Linked DNA regions of Homo sapiens. The protein of the gene in region 4 purifies or fractionates together with the protein of the main gene of each other region. This does not show direct contact. Each region holds a gene or a part of one and is shown on either strand. Other genes may lie near its edges.

Region 1 (3,500 bases), on a different chromosome or scaffold from region 4:
CTTGAATTATATATCCTACACAAAAAGGTGGTAGAAGACTTGGTTCTCATTCTGTTTCTCAGCATAAATGATTCTTTTTTTTTTTTTGGAGACAGAGCCCTGCTCTGTTGCCCAGGCTGGAGTGCAGTGGTATGATCTCGGCTCACTGTAACCTCTGCCTCCCGGGTTCAAGCGATTCTCCTGCCTCACCCTCCTGAGTAGCTCGGATTTCAGGCACATGCCATCATGCCCAGCTTATTTTTGTATTTTTAAAAGACAGGGTTTCACCATATTGGCCAGGCTGGTCTCAAACTCCTGACTTCAGGTGATCTGCCCGCCTCAGCCTCCCAAACTGCTGGGATTACAGGCATGAGCCACCAAAACACCTGGCCTAAATGATTTCTAATCACTTGTTTGGTTTATACAGTTTGACTGCTTATTATACTAAGAGGACAAGTCATATAACTAACACAGTTGTCTAAAAAAAATTTTTTTGATTCAGAATTCTAAGCAGTTTACTAACTCAACTTATTTCATAGACATGTAATGGCAAAGGTCTGGTTTCTAAAACTACAGCTATTTTTCATGCCTCAGGATGCATGAAACTGTTTTTGTTTCATATAGTCCTTCTATTTTGTATCTTTTGCAAGTGTTTGACTCATGAGACCTTCTATTATAGGATGGGATCCAAGAAGAGAAACTGGAACCTTTATCCAGCTTGCCTACGGGAGATGAGCCGTGTCTGCACACCTACCACAGGCCGAGCTGTACTACTTACTCAAGACACAAAATGCTTTACCAAGGTGCTATACACATTAGCTCAAAATCGCAGCCTGTGGCAACTTTGGGATCTTTTTGAGATTTGGGGATGTTTGTTTGGATAAGATTTGTTTTCTCTTCCCCTGAGGTTTCCTATCTTGGCAGTTAAGAATCCTAGTTGATGTAAAAGTAGATTGTCAACCTAATTGTTATTTTTTTTGTGTGTACACAGGCGTTATCTGGAATGCGACACGTATGGCGAAAGGTGGATACAGTCTGGGTGAACGTTGGTGGTCTTCGTGCTGCAGTTTACGTTCTGATACGTACACCTCAAGCTTTTGTTCATCCTTCAGAACAAGACGGAGAAAGAGGAACTCTTTGGCAATGCAAAGAATGAAGATGACTAATAGTACTTGTACTTCCCACCACTGGAAATGTTAGCATAAAAGAACTTGGAGAGGAAAAAAGTATTAACAAAACTGCAGTCTGCACTCTTTAAACCTGTTTAAGGCTCTTCATCCTGGTTAGCAAAAGGTGTGAATGTAATGTGATGGAATTTAAAAGTTTTATGAGACCAGGCACAGTGGCTCACGACTGTAATTCCAGCAGTTTAGGAAGCCGAAGTGTGCAGATCACCTGAGGTCCGGAGACCAGCCTGGCCAACATGGTGAAACCCTGTCTCTACTAGAAATACAAAAATTAGCCAGGTGTGGTGGCGGGCGCCTGTAATCCCAACTACTCAGGAGGCTGAGGCTAGAGAATCACTTGAACCCAGCAGGCGGAGGTTGCGGTGAGTCGAGATCACGCCATTGCACTCCAGCCTGTGCGACAAGAGCGAAACTCTGTCTCAAAAAGATTTTATAAGAAAGCAGAGCTTTTCCTTGAAGCTCTTTTGAAGTGGTAGCTTAATTAGTATTTTGTTGAAAATACTTTAAAGATGCCTAGTGAAAAGCCTACTAAAGTGCTGTGAGATTGGGGTTTAGAACATTTTATTTTCAGGCTTTATGGCCTATTTTCCATTGTGTCAAGTGCAAAACTACCCTGGCCCAAAGGAAGGGCAGAGAACATAATTACATCTTAGGCCACATTTCATTCTTTGCAGCTTTGCTAATCCAGTTGCTCAAGTTCTTTACCTCAACCTGAAGGAATGAAGCATTATTACATTTTGTGAATGGTGTTCAGCCTATAAGACGAAGTCTCACAAGACCTATAGGAAAGTTTACCATCTGCCTTAAATATTAAAATATCCATCTGTTATTCACATTAATACACAGAATGAAAATAGAGGTCTAGGAATTATCAAAGGTACTGCAAAAATACTGTATAGAACTTATTTGTAAATAGCACATACATTGATAGATGGGGTGTGGGACCAACAAACCAAATTAAAAGAAATTGTTTTTCTTTCAGTACACTAAGGTGTGTGTTTTCAAAACCAAACACAAACCTGTCAAGAGTATTTGTTGGCTAGTTTCTTAAAAGGCCAAGAGAAAAAAAATGATATATCTTTGGAAAACTTTTAATTTGGGAGTTATGTGAGTTGTTACTTTCTCCTGGATCACGATTCACATTTAATTGCTTTTCCAGTTGCAACAAGTCCTTCTTGAGAGTTTTGTGGAAAATGGTGCTTCCCTGGAACAAAGAGTAGTTGAGGTTTTTTTGTGGAACTCATCATAGTATTGTTTATTTTGGAGCCTCTGGCTGCAATCAGTATAGATTTTCAGTATCCTATTAGTATTATAATAGTACTCCTCTTAATACTTTCTGATGTCTCCATTGAGAATAAAAGGACACAATACTTTTGAAAGAAGAGTTCACATTAGCAGCACAGCCAGCAATCCTCATCTGGTTTCTCTGATCTCCTACCCCACACTTCATAATGAATGGGAAATAAGATGTTTATGAAGGTTTTATATCCTAGACTGGCCTTTTTACCACTATCAGAATTCACAGCTGCTTTGTTTATGGGCCGAACACAAAACTTTTCACCTGATGGGAGAAACCATTTAAACCTCAAATTAAGCAACCCACAGAACCAGGAAGTTCAAGGACCATGTCTGTTTTCACCACGATGTCTTTCCCCACCCCCCCACCCCCCACTCCACCCCCCACTAAGGGCAGGGTATTGTATCTGCCAGACTGGGTATTTGTTGAACAAGCGAGTATTTTCGCCTATTAGCTTAGTTTTTAAGGAAATCATTTTTTACTTGATTCATCATAGCTTTAATTCTATTACATACTACAATAAAAATTTGACAAGACTGATACAAATATGTAGTGGGCAATAGTTTGCCGTCTTCTTCCCTAGTATGGTGTTTTTCAATCTGGTGACTAGAATAGGCAGTGGGCTATAAGCAGGATTCATAAGGCCTGGAGCTGAGTTATATGTGACACTGCCACCTATTCATTGTGTGACCTTGGTTTTAACCTTCAAAGTGGGTCTCCTGGACTAAAAGAATGTGAAAAGATGGGGAAATAAATCTGTAATCTGAACATGGAATGACTTAGTTACAGACCAGACATATTGTTACTGGGAATGAAAAAGTCAATATATTTGAGGGGAAAAAAATGTAAATAAATATTGAGAAAGATTTTACAAATCTAATTAGGGGAAGATAGTTATCTCCCAATACTAGAGGGTACCAGAGTGCTTTTAAGGGGAACATTTGGTTACCCTTATTTCTTTAAAAAATGGCAGTTTAGGAAATTCTGCCCTAACTGTAGTCCCAATGTCAGATAGGACTCAGGTCTCCACTGCAAGG
Region 2 (3,500 bases), on a different chromosome or scaffold from region 4:
CTCATATGGCTACCCTACCACTTATACAGTTCTCACAATACTCATTCTGATAAGCAAATCTTACATCATTCTTCTGAGCTAAAGTTTTCAATGGCTCCTATTTGCAAAGAGGATAAAATCTAATCTCCATGGTATAGCACACAAAGCCTGCTGTGACCTAGCCCACTGTCTATCACTGTCCAATCCCATTGACCACCAGTATCTGATAACATTTTATATACCAAATGATAGAAAGCTGCTTATAATTTCTTGAACACTACTGGCTCTCTCATACTTTTGTATATGTAAAATGGCCATTTCCTCTGCCTGATTCATGTAAGGAAAGCAAATGCCTATTCATGCTTAACCTCTCAACTGCAGTCTTCTTTATATAATCTCATTCTACAAAGCAGTCCCTCATTCCTCTACAATACTTTGTACATTTTCTACCAATAAACTTATTGCATTTTAGTGCAGCAGTTTGCTCTCATCTCTCTCTCCTCAGTGTTTATCTTCTTAAAGACAGAAAATGTCTTTTCAGTTTATTTTTCAATCCTCAGTACTAAGTGTAGTCAGCTGGCACATAGGTAGGCATGCCAATAATTATCTGCTTTTTCAACAAATAAGTTATGAAGGTGATATATAAATACATGAAAAAGAATAGCTTCTCCTAAAGTAATTGTGGAGAATGAATAGCTACTTTAGGAATGATAGGGAGCTAATGATAATCATAGTGGCCCACACATCATATGTTATGTACCCAGCTTGTGCTTCATACATTATCACAAAAACAGTATGGGATGGATGTTATAATGAAACTCATTTTGTAGATGAATAAATAAGGCACAAAATGTTAAAAAGTTTGCTCAAGGTCACAGTAACTGACAAAGACAAGACAAAGAGAGATCTATACTAACCACTATTCTACTCTGCTTTTCAATACAGGCAAATGTTAAATCATCACTGCTATTTCTAGGGCTTTGCTATCCCTTACTGCTATTTAACTGCTTTCCTCTTTCTCCACTTTCACTTTTCTCTGTGTTTTTAGGCTCTTCTTTCTTCATTTTCTTTCTTCCTTTCACTTTCTTTTCCTTTAATTCTCTATTCAATTTCCATAATGAACATAACCTATACTATACGATCAAGTATTTCCTCCTAAAATACCTTCTCTTTTCTTTTTTTAATCAAGGAAAACAAAGAAGAAATAGTTAGAAAAGAGGTGAGTTAGGACTGCATACATTACCTCCTGAAAGAAGTTGCAAGAAACAGAGAAAACTAAGAACAGACCTTTGAATATGGCAAAAGAAAAACCTGTGATAACTGAGAGAGCAATATTTTAGCTAAATTATGGAAGAAAAAGCTGTAAGGAATACTAATGCTTAGTAAGAAAATGAAGCCAATTGCTGAAGACCATTATTTGAAAAACTTAACATAAAACACATAAAAAACTAAGATCGCAGCTGGAAAGGATAGTTGAATCAAATGAAGGTGCGGGGGGGCTCGTGATTTGCTTTTTGTTTGTTTAAAGAAATCTGAGCATAAATGGCCAGGCATGGTTGCACATGCCTGTAATCCCAGCACTTTGGGAGACTGCAGCAGGTAGATCACTTGAGCTCATGAGTTCAAGACCAGCCTGGCCAACATGGCAAAACCCCGTCTCTACTGAAAATACAAAAAAAAAAAAAAAAAATGAGCCAGGCGTGGCAGCACATGCCTGTAGTCCCAGCTATTCTGGTGGCTGAGGCAAGAGAATCACCTGAACCCAGGAGGCAGAGGTTGCAGTGAGACAAGATCATGTCTCTGCACTCCAGCCTGGGTGACAGAACGAGACTCTGTCTCAAAAAAAAAAAAAAAAAAAAAATCTGTGCATAAGTAACTGTAAAAAGTTAAACTAGTTTCTCTACTGCAGAAAACAAAACTGTTAGTTCTATGACCGCAAGAACTTTGTCTGTCTTGTTCACTGCTATCACACCCAAGGCTTGGCACATAGTAGATACTCAACTACTATAAATACAATTATTCTGATAAAAAAAAAACTATAAATTGTATATAGTCCAAGCTGGGTGCGGTGGCTCACGCATGTAATCCCAGCACTTTGGGAAGCTGAGGGATGTGGATCATTTGAGGTCAGGAGTTTGAGACCAGCCTGGCCAACATGGTGAAACCCCATCTCTACTAAAAATACAAAAAAAATTACCTGGGCATGGTGGCGCACACCTGTAATCTCAGCTACTCAGGAGGCTGAGGCAGGAGAATTGTATGAACCCGGGAAGGGGAGGTTGCAGTGAGCCGAGATGTGCCACTGCGCTCCAGCCTGGGCAACAGAGCAAAACTCCGTCTCAAAAAAAAAAAAATTGTATACTCCATTTTTAAGTTACAGTTTAATTTTATATCTTCTACCAACTGAATGAGTGCTGGATTAAACATTCATTCATTCATTCATTCATTCATTCATTCAAATATTTGTAGAGTACGTACTATTTTCCAGGTACTATACTCTAGGCAATGGGAATGTAGCAATGGACAAAACAAAACCATCTTTGCTCTAATGAGAGGCACTGAACACACATCACACACACACACACAAAAAAAAGATGCTAAGAGTGATATGTCCTAAAATGAATACAAAAGCATAATAATGATATTTAGTGATAATAGGAAGTGGTAGTAATATTTTATATAGGATGGTCATGGAAGGTCTCTCTGTTTAGATGATGTTCGAATGAGAAAGTGAGCAAGGCAAGTAAGCAAACAGTACTACTACAGACCTATGCAACAGTAAATCCAAAGACCTGAGGAGGGAGAGTGCTTAGTGTGTATGAGGAAGATCAAGGAGGCTGCCAAGGCTGAAGTAAAGGAAGCAAAGGAAAGCATAACAGAACCAGCTATAATAGATCCATATTTCATCTACAACAATTGTAACAGTACCTAATCATTAATGGAGTCTTTCATACATGGATAGTTTTTAAACTAATATGTGAAGGGGCAGAAATTTAGAAAAATTTCAAATTCATTACCTTGCAAAAATTCTCCGTTTTGGTTATTTTCCCTTATATAACCAAAACTTCTGATTGTTCCAATAATGCAAACAAAACCCTGAAGTACAAGGTACTATTCTATGAGTTAAAAATGCTACACATTACAAGAACTTTAATATCCATGAGTCTCACGTATGATACAACACCAAATTCCTCACGGAAAGCAGTGTCCTGCTCATATGTGGATATCTTTTGGACAAGTCTGCTGGGATATCGTTTGGACAAGACATCGAGTGGAGCACTAGTGTTCAATTCTAAGAGTTAGAAGTTAAGAGGAATACACATTAGTGTAATTCTAATTTTCTAATCATGTCCCTTTCTTACCTGACAATAACTTAGTATGGTATAAAAGAATTCAACTGTTCCCATATATGCCACAGTACCTATCACAGGTTAATATGCATAATAAACATCTGATACCATTAAGTCAAGATTTTTTTTTGGCTGGGCACAGTGGTTCACGCCTGTAATCCCAGCACTTTG
Region 3 (3,940 bases), on a different chromosome or scaffold from region 4:
TCTGCCTCCCAAAGTGCTGGCATTACAGGTGTGAATCACTGCACCCAACGTAATTTTTGTTTTTTGTTGGGGGCAGAGATGAAGGTCTCACTATGTGGCCCAAGATGGTCTGGAACTCCTGGCCTCAAGTGGTCCTCCTGCCTTGGCCTCCCAAAGCACTGGGATTACAGACGTAAGCCATGGTTCCTGGCCAGCAAAAATCTTAAGAAGTAAAACTGATATGGCTCCAGATCCAATATTTATTTACTCTTTAATTCAACGAATATCTACTGAACACATACTCTCGTGTTGCAGGTGCTGCAGGTATGAGTGCACAGGATAGCGGGTTAGACAGTTCAGCAAGCAGATTTCATGAGATTACAAAAATAAGGGAAATCCCTAATGAATCCTTCAGTCTTGAAAAGGAATCACAGCAAAGCCCTGTCCTCATGTGCCAATGTCACCCCTGTCCATGTGCTCCCTTCCCATCACCTGAGTGGGTCCAGTATCATTTTTGGCAGTGTCCCTTACCCCTAATGAGCCCAAGACCACAGCCTTGCATAAAACCAAACTCCTTCCTGTACCTTCAGCAAATTCCATGGCTCCGGCAAACACTAGGGCTGCAAACTCTCCCACACTGAATCCAGCAGCAGCAACACAGTTCTCAATCACCTGTGGGGACAGATGCAGAACGTGAGCCCTCACTCTCCTGGGGATCCCAGTTCCAGGGCTCTGTACCTGAGAGCTGGCGGGGTGTTCAGCATCTCAGTGAGCCAGGTTCTACGAACTTGGTGCACCAGCTGGAAGAGGACACACAAAAGTGACCTTGACAATCATTGAGTCCTGCCCCTTTATTTAGGAGGAGCTTTCCTGGTTAGTTACAGTCCATCAACTCCGTCCATGGTCACACTGACGCCAACCCAGGGCTCTGGATTCCCTTGCCATGGCCCTGCAGCAGGCTCTCAGGCCATATCGTTGTGCACAAGTTAAGAGCATGACTTTTTTTTTTTTGAGGCGGAGTTTTGCTCTTGTTGCCCAGGCTGGAGTGCAATGGCGTGATCTCGGCTCACTGCAACGTCCGCCTCCCGGGTTCAAGCAATTCTCCTGCCTCAGCCTCCCGAGTTGCTGGGATTACAGGTGTCCACCACCACACTTGGCTAATTTTTGTATTTTTAGTAGAGACGGGGTTTCACCATGTTGGCCAGGCTGGTTTTGAACTCCTGACCTCGTGATGCACCCACCTCAGCCTCCTGAAGTGCTGGATTATAGGCATTATAGGCGTGAGCCACCTCGCCCGGCCAAGAGCATTTTTATCTCATCTGTGAAATGAGGGAAGAACAGGGCCTACCCCAAAGGGCGGATGAGAGAATTATGTGAATATAATGTCTATACAGTGCTTAGCACAGACCCAGACTAGGGTAAGCAGTGAATGAATATTATGATGACGATTCAACAGGACCACTTAACTAATTCTTTTAATATCCCTGAGTCTGCATTCCTCAACCATCAAATAACAGTATTAACCTCACAAGGTGGTGTGAAGGTGAAATAGGGTAAAGGATCTCAAGTGCTAGCTTAACATTTACCGTCTTATTAAATATTAATAGCAATCAATCCACCACCTTCAAGTGAAGTGACATTCTCAACTCATCTCAATGTTCCTTCATTTAGGCCAGTGCAGTGGCTCATACCTGTAATCCTAGCACTTTGGGAGGCCGAGGTGGGTGAACCTGGGAGGATTTAAGTAAAGAATAAAAAAATTAGCCGGGCGTGGTGGTGTGCACCTGTGATCCCAGCTACTGCGGAGGCTGAGGCAGGAGAACTGCTTGAACCTGGGAGGCAGAGGTTGCAGTGAGCCAAGACTGCGCCATTGCACTCCAGCCTGGGTGACAGAGCAAGACTCTGTCTCAAAAAACAAAACAAAACGGGCCGGGCACGGTGGCTCATGCCTGTAATCCCAGCACTTTGGGAGGCCGAGGCGGGCAGATCACGAGGTCAGGAGATCAAGACCATCCTGACTAACACGATGAAACCCCGTCTCTACTAAAAATACAAAAAATTAGCCGGGCATGGTGGCGGGCGCCTGTAGTCCCAGCTACTTGGGAGGCTGAGGCAGGAGAATGGCGTGAACTCGGGAGGCGGAGCCGAGATCGCGCCACTGCACTCTAGCCTGGGCGACAGAGCGAGACTCCGTCTCAAAAAAAAAAACAAAAACAAACAAAAAAAAAAACTCGATCGAATGAGTAAGACGTGGGAGCCCCCGGAATGGCAGGCGGAAGCCTCTGGCAGGGCCAAGAGCTCAGGCAGAGCTCACCTTCCCCCTCCTGTCACGGGGCCTCGGGCCTCACCGAGGGCTGCAGGTGATGTAGTTTCTCGACAGCGGCCAGCGATGCCACGAAGATCGCGGGCTGACAGTGCACGGTGCGGTCCAGGGTCTCCTGCGGCCCGTGCAGGCTCAGTTCCAGCAGGTCGTAGCCCAGCACGCGGCGGGCGGCGGCGTAGAGTTCGCGGACGCGCGGGTAGTTGAGCAGACCGCGGCCCATGCCCACCACCTGGCTGCCCTGGCCCGGGAAGAGCAGCACGGAGCACTGGCCCGGCATTCGCCGCTCCGTCGCCGCCCAGGGCGCCTCCTCCTCCGCCCCGGTCGCATCTCGCAGCAGCTCCGCTACACCCTGGGCGCCCGGCGGAGGCACCGGGAAGCTCGAGGCGCCGCGGCGGTAGCTGGCGCCCAAGCCCCTGACCCACGCTACCCGTGCGACCCGGACGCTCATGGTCGGACACCTGCCCGCGCGCGTTACCGTGGCGACCGAGGCCCGACTGCGGCGGCGCGGCGCAGCGTGGTCCCTGACGCATTTCCTGCCGGGGCTTCCGGGGCACCGGGAGCGGGAAGAAAGGTTCCGCAGACGCTGGTTCCGCCCCGGCTCTGAGGCCCTTCGGGCTGCGTTCTGGGGTCCTGGAGGGACTCATGCGTTTACTTAAACAGCCATAGCCGTTGAACGGAACACGATGCCACACCACAGTGGGTCCTCAACAGATATTTATGGAATAAATAACGCAACGCAATGTAGTATTTACGCTTTCTACCTGGCACATGAAGAGCACTTGAAACTCTTCCACATTGATGGTTTTTGTTGTTGTCGTTGTTGTTGTTTGTTGTTGTTTTTTGAGACGGAGTCTTGCTCTGTCGCCCAGGCTGGAGTGCAGTGGCGTGTTCTTTGCTCACTGCAACCGCCGCCTCCCAGGTTCAAGCGATTCTCCTGCTTCAGCTTCCCGAGTAGCTGGGATTAACAGGCGCCCGCCACCATGCCTGACTAATTTTTGTATTTTTAGTAGGGACGGGTTCACCATGTTGGCCACGCTGGTGTCGAACTCCTGACCTCAGGTGATCCACCCGCCTCGGCCTCCCAAAGTGCTGGGATTACAGGCGTGAGCCACCGCGCCCGGCCAGCAACCACATTTCTTGCATATGATCCTCCCAACCACAGGAGTTGGCATGGCCGACCATCCGTTGCCAGTTCCCAACTATACAACAGCTCTCTTTTATAATGTTTTCTTACAAACCACACAGTGCTTGGCACATAATAAGCATCCAATAGATCTTTATGCTATTGAACAAAGCCTTGAATGTGTTTCAGATATTAGCTTATTTAATTCCTCACAGCAACGCTGTGATGGATAGCTGCTCAGAGATTGAGTGACAGGTGGTTAGTGACAGAATGGAGGTTGGAAATTGGGGTTATCTAATGTTAACCTAAAAGCAACTCAAGAGACACAGGCTCGGCCAGGCGCAGTGGCTCATGCCTGTAATCCCAGTACTTTGGGAGGCTGAGGCAGATGGATCACTTGAGGTCAGGAGTTCAAGACCAGCCTGGCCAACATGGAGAAACCCCGTCTCTACTAAAAATACAAAAATTAGCTGGGCGTGGTGGTGGGCGCTTATAGTTCCAGCTACTCGGGAGGC
Region 4 (4,079 bases):
AACATGGTGAAACCCCGTCTCTACTAAGAACACAAAAAAATTGTCCGGGTGTGGTGGCACTCCTGTAGTTCCAGCTACTTGTGAGGCTGAGGCAGAATTGCTTGAACCTGGGAGGCGGAGGCTGCAGTGAGCTGAGATCACACCACTGCACTCCAGCCTGGGTGACAGAGCGAGACTCCATCTCAAAAAAAAAAAAAGTAAAAATAAAAATATGAAAACCCTCCACGTTCACAAACTTATATAGGCACAAAAGGAGTCATATGCATGGCCACAGAGTGATGCACAGATACAGCATCCTTACATCTGATCATAACATTGACTTATAAGAACCCAAAGAATTGACAAATACATTAGTAATTAGTAATTATGTATCTACCTATCCTCCCCAACCAATTCCAACAATTCCTGAATTGTCAAACCTTACTAAGAGATTTCAACCCAAACCCACAACCATACCTCTTGTCCCCTATACTATCCTAGATTTAGAAGCTAATTAACTTTTTCCTATACTCCAAGGTGGGAGAGGGAGCAGAGAGCAAAAAGAGATTTTTAGATAGCTTCAAATACGTGAAACCTCTAATAGGGAAGCAATTCATTTTGGGAATTCATTTTATTTTAATGAGTTCTGGGTAACCTGAGAGAACTAGGAGGGAAAAAAATCAGGAAAGAAATTTTCACATGGTACTCTACAAGGTTTGAAAAGAATAAAGACATGTGAAATATTTCCCTTTCAAATATATACGTATAATATATAATGTATTATCTATACATATATTTGATAAAGGGATGTCAGTATATGTACATATAAACATATATTGATAACCAACAAATGTGTATAAACTCATATTTCATTTCTTTTTGAGATGGAGTCTTGCTCTGTCACCCAGGCTGGAGTGCAGTGGCACAATCCTGGCTCATTGCAACCTCTGTCCCCCAGGTTCAAGTGATTCTCCTGCTTCAGCCTCCTGAGTAGCTGGGATTACAGGCGCGTGCCACCAAGCCCAGCTAATTTGGGGTTTCACCATGTTGACCAGGCTGGTCTCGAACTCCTGACCTCAAGTGATCCACCCACCTTGGCCTCCCAAGTGCTGGGATTACAGGCATAAGCCACCATGCCCAGCCTCATTTCTTTTTTAAAGTAAATTTTATTGTGTATATTTAAGGTATACAACATGTTACGGGATACATATAGATAGTAGAAAGGTTACTATAGTGAAGTAAATTAATCATCCCACATAATTGTCCCTTTTGTTTCTTTTTGTGGCAAGAGGAGCTAAAGTCTGCTCATTTAGCATGAATCCCATATACAGTACAACTTTATCATCTATAGTCCTCATGTTGTACATTGGATCTCAGGATTTGTTCATCCTACATATCTACTACTTTGTATCCTCTGACCTATAGCTCCCCATTTCCTCTCCCCTCTACCCATATTTCTTCAGGATATAAACAAAATGAGTACCACACAGACTAAGCCCATAAATCAACATTAAGTGTTTTGGGTCTAAACATTTACCCACTGCATTGATCAGACACTTGTGTTTAAATCCACCTCTAATGGTCTCATTAGGTACATGAGAAAGCAGCAGGAATCGTTCCTCACCCTCCAACATTCCATTAGATGAGCAAAAGATTCCCTAAATGTCTATGTCACATTTTTTCTTCAAAGAACAGCTACAACACAAAGAGAGGGTAAAGAGTCTTCTTCCTGCTACAGCATGAAATTCCTCCTAATCAGTATGCTGTGCGCCCTGAAATGCCAGAAACTGCCAAATATATTCCTTGTCAAATATGGACAAGATTGTCCATCTCTCCCCATGTGCCCAAGGACAGCACAATTCTCTGGCAGCCATGGGTTAATCATAAAGACTCCTAGGATCACTGCAAAGTCTGGCTATCTGCAGAGGTCCAAGTATCAGTTCAAATACAAGATCCAAAGTATCACAGCGCTCTGTGCCTTAATCCCAAGGTGCGATGTCTCTCAAGACTCCTTCTCTATAGGCTGGGTGGGGTAGGATCTGTAGTCTAGAAGAGTATACCCAGCTCTTGATAAACTGTTGTGGTTTCTCTGACTATCTATGATTTCAGCTATCTAATACTACTGGTGGTATGGGTAGGAGGGAAGGTTGGGGAGAGAATGGAAACAGTTAATCAAAAAATAAAATAATCTTGTGGGGTGGGGTGGACTGGGGGACAGGGTCTGAAATGACATATTATCCTTGTGGAGATTGATACATCAGCAGGAAGTCAAACTAACTTCATTTCATAAGGATACAAACTTGCAAGCTTGATTTGTTTTTAATTCCCCTGTCTTTTCAGGCCTCGCAGAGACTGAAAGTTCCCTGAACTCCAGAACCAGTTGAGGAAAGATGCAGAAAGCAGTAGTGGAAAAGGGAGAAGCGCGGTGAGGAATTAGGAATCTTGAGAGAGGAAGCCCCTTCCCCTCTTTAAAAAGAATGTAAAAACCAAGGGCATTGCAAGATCCCCAGAAAAAGAAGTAGCTAGATACCAAAAAAGCGCTTTTCCCTACCTTCTTGTTGTTTCTATTGTAGCCAAAAGTCGAAATCCCGGGCCTGGAAGTCACGGATAGCAGCATTTTCTCTTTAATGTTAGGGAACGAGCGAGAGAGAGAGAGAGAGAGAAAGGGAGGGGGTAAGAAAGACGGGGAGGGAGGGAGGAGGGGAGCGAGGGAAAGGGGGAGAGGGAGGGAGGAAAAAAGGGAGGGGGAGGAGAAAGGAGGAGAAAAGGAGCAGGAGGAGAGAGATGAAGGGGGGCTGCGGGCAGAGAATGAGCTCGGGCTGCTCCTTTACGTCACTGAGAGAAGTTAACAGAGTCTGAATGAGGCAGAGGCACTTCCACTGGGTCCTAATGCCCAAGATGTTTTTTTTTGTTTGTTTTTCATAGTCTCAGGAGTTAAAGCTAGAAAGAAGAGTTCTTAGGTCTAACCCCTTTCAAATTTATCCCCTTTCCTCTATGAACAAGTTCCGATTCTCATATAAAGACAATGAGGGCTTTATTTCCACCCTTAGATCTCAGCTATAAGATTTCAAGCTTGATTTTAAAGGGGCTCCTGAGACATTGCCTTGGAGAACACGCAAAAAAAAAAAAAAAAAAAAACAGAGTTAGAGTGTGTGAGATAAGCTCAGGGCTTCCCCTACTTTACACTTACAGTGATTTTTTTTTTTTTTTTTTGAGACAGAGTTTTAGTCTGTCACCCAGGCTGAAGTGCAGTGGTGCAATCCCGGATCCGGCTCACTGCAACCTCCACCTTCCGCAATTCTCCTGCCTCAGCCTCTCGAGTAGCTGGGATTACAGGTGACCACCACCACACCCAGCTGATTTTTGTATTTTTTAGTAGGGACGGGGTTTCGCCATCTTGGCCAGGCTGGTCTCGAACTCCTGACCTCAAGTGATCCACCCACTCAACCTCCCAAAGTGCTGGGATTACAGGCATGAGCCACCACCCCTGGCCCATTTATAGTGATCTTAATGTACAAAGGAACAAACAGAGGAACACACCAAAGAGCAGAGCTAAGCAAAACAGAGTATGGGGTATAACTAGTTTCAGATCCTTAGATGTGTTTCTCTTGGGTCATACCAATGGGCTGATGCCCCTCACTCCTATTTCAGATTCTCCGAGGAATGAGTTCATACTTAAGAAGGAATTATCAGACTGGACTATATCATGAAACTTGGTGCCTTGTTATTTCTCTAACAATTGCAGGCTATCTTATTTAACACTTTACCCTGCTATTTCCTCATCTTTAAGATCCATGAAACTGAAACAATTACAGTAACTCACCAAACCTGGAGTTTATGTCTAAATTGAAGTCTACAGTTGGGATGTCTGCTTTGAGTTGTCTTTGAGCTGTTTAAAAAAAAAAAATACTTAAGAAGCATATGCTTCAACAGAATAAAAACACAAAATTCTTAGGAAGGAATACAAATTTCAGAGTCAAGAACCTAATAGAGTTGCAACACTTACCTCTACTAGTTTCCAAAGAATGTCTTTGTAGGCGTAACCTTAACAAGAAAGGAAACCAAAAACTTAAGAATGATATCCAGTAACCCCTACCAAT

What was found. The genes of interacting proteins can lie anywhere in the genome.
Region 1: the proteins of RBMS2 (region 4) and THUMPD3 purify together in Homo sapiens (co-immunoprecipitation; one large-scale study listed by IntAct). This does not show direct contact.
Region 2: the proteins of RBMS2 (region 4) and MRPL1 purify together in Homo sapiens (affinity purification with mass spectrometry; one large-scale study listed by BioGRID and IntAct). This does not show direct contact.
Region 3: the proteins of RBMS2 (region 4) and MCAT purify together in Homo sapiens (affinity purification with mass spectrometry; one large-scale study listed by BioGRID and IntAct). This does not show direct contact.

What each region holds. Positions count from the first base shown.
Region 1 is NC_000003.12:9,383,554-9,387,053, forward strand, and holds the end of THUMPD3 (tRNA (guanine(6)-N(2))-methyltransferase THUMP3), read left to right. Parts: intron 1-658; coding exon 659-782; intron 783-970; coding exon 971-1,135; coding exon of another isoform or gene 1,136-1,179; 3' UTR 1,180-3,238; downstream 3,239-3,500. UniProt on the Homo sapiens protein: Catalytic subunit of the THUMPD3-TRM112 methyltransferase complex, that specifically mediates the S-adenosyl-L-methionine-dependent N(2)-methylation of guanosine nucleotide at position 6 (m2G6) in tRNAs.
Region 2 is NC_000004.12:77,897,330-77,900,829, reverse strand, and holds part of MRPL1 (large ribosomal subunit protein uL1m precursor), read right to left. Parts: intron 1-3,500.
Region 3 is NC_000022.11:43,140,599-43,144,538, forward strand, and holds the start of MCAT (malonyl-CoA-acyl carrier protein transacylase, mitochondrial isoform a precursor), read right to left. Parts: upstream 2,801-3,940; 5' UTR 2,751-2,800; coding exon 2,328-2,750; exon of another isoform or gene 2,294-2,327; intron 652-2,293; coding exon 564-651; intron 1-563. UniProt on the Homo sapiens protein: Catalyzes the transfer of a malonyl moiety from malonyl-CoA to the free thiol group of the phosphopantetheine arm of the mitochondrial ACP protein (NDUFAB1). This suggests the existence of the biosynthesis of fatty acids in mitochondria.
Region 4 is NC_000012.12:56,520,541-56,524,619, reverse strand, and holds the start of RBMS2 (RNA-binding motif, single-stranded-interacting protein 2), read right to left. Parts: upstream 2,801-4,079; 5' UTR 2,597-2,800; coding exon 2,531-2,596; intron 1-2,530.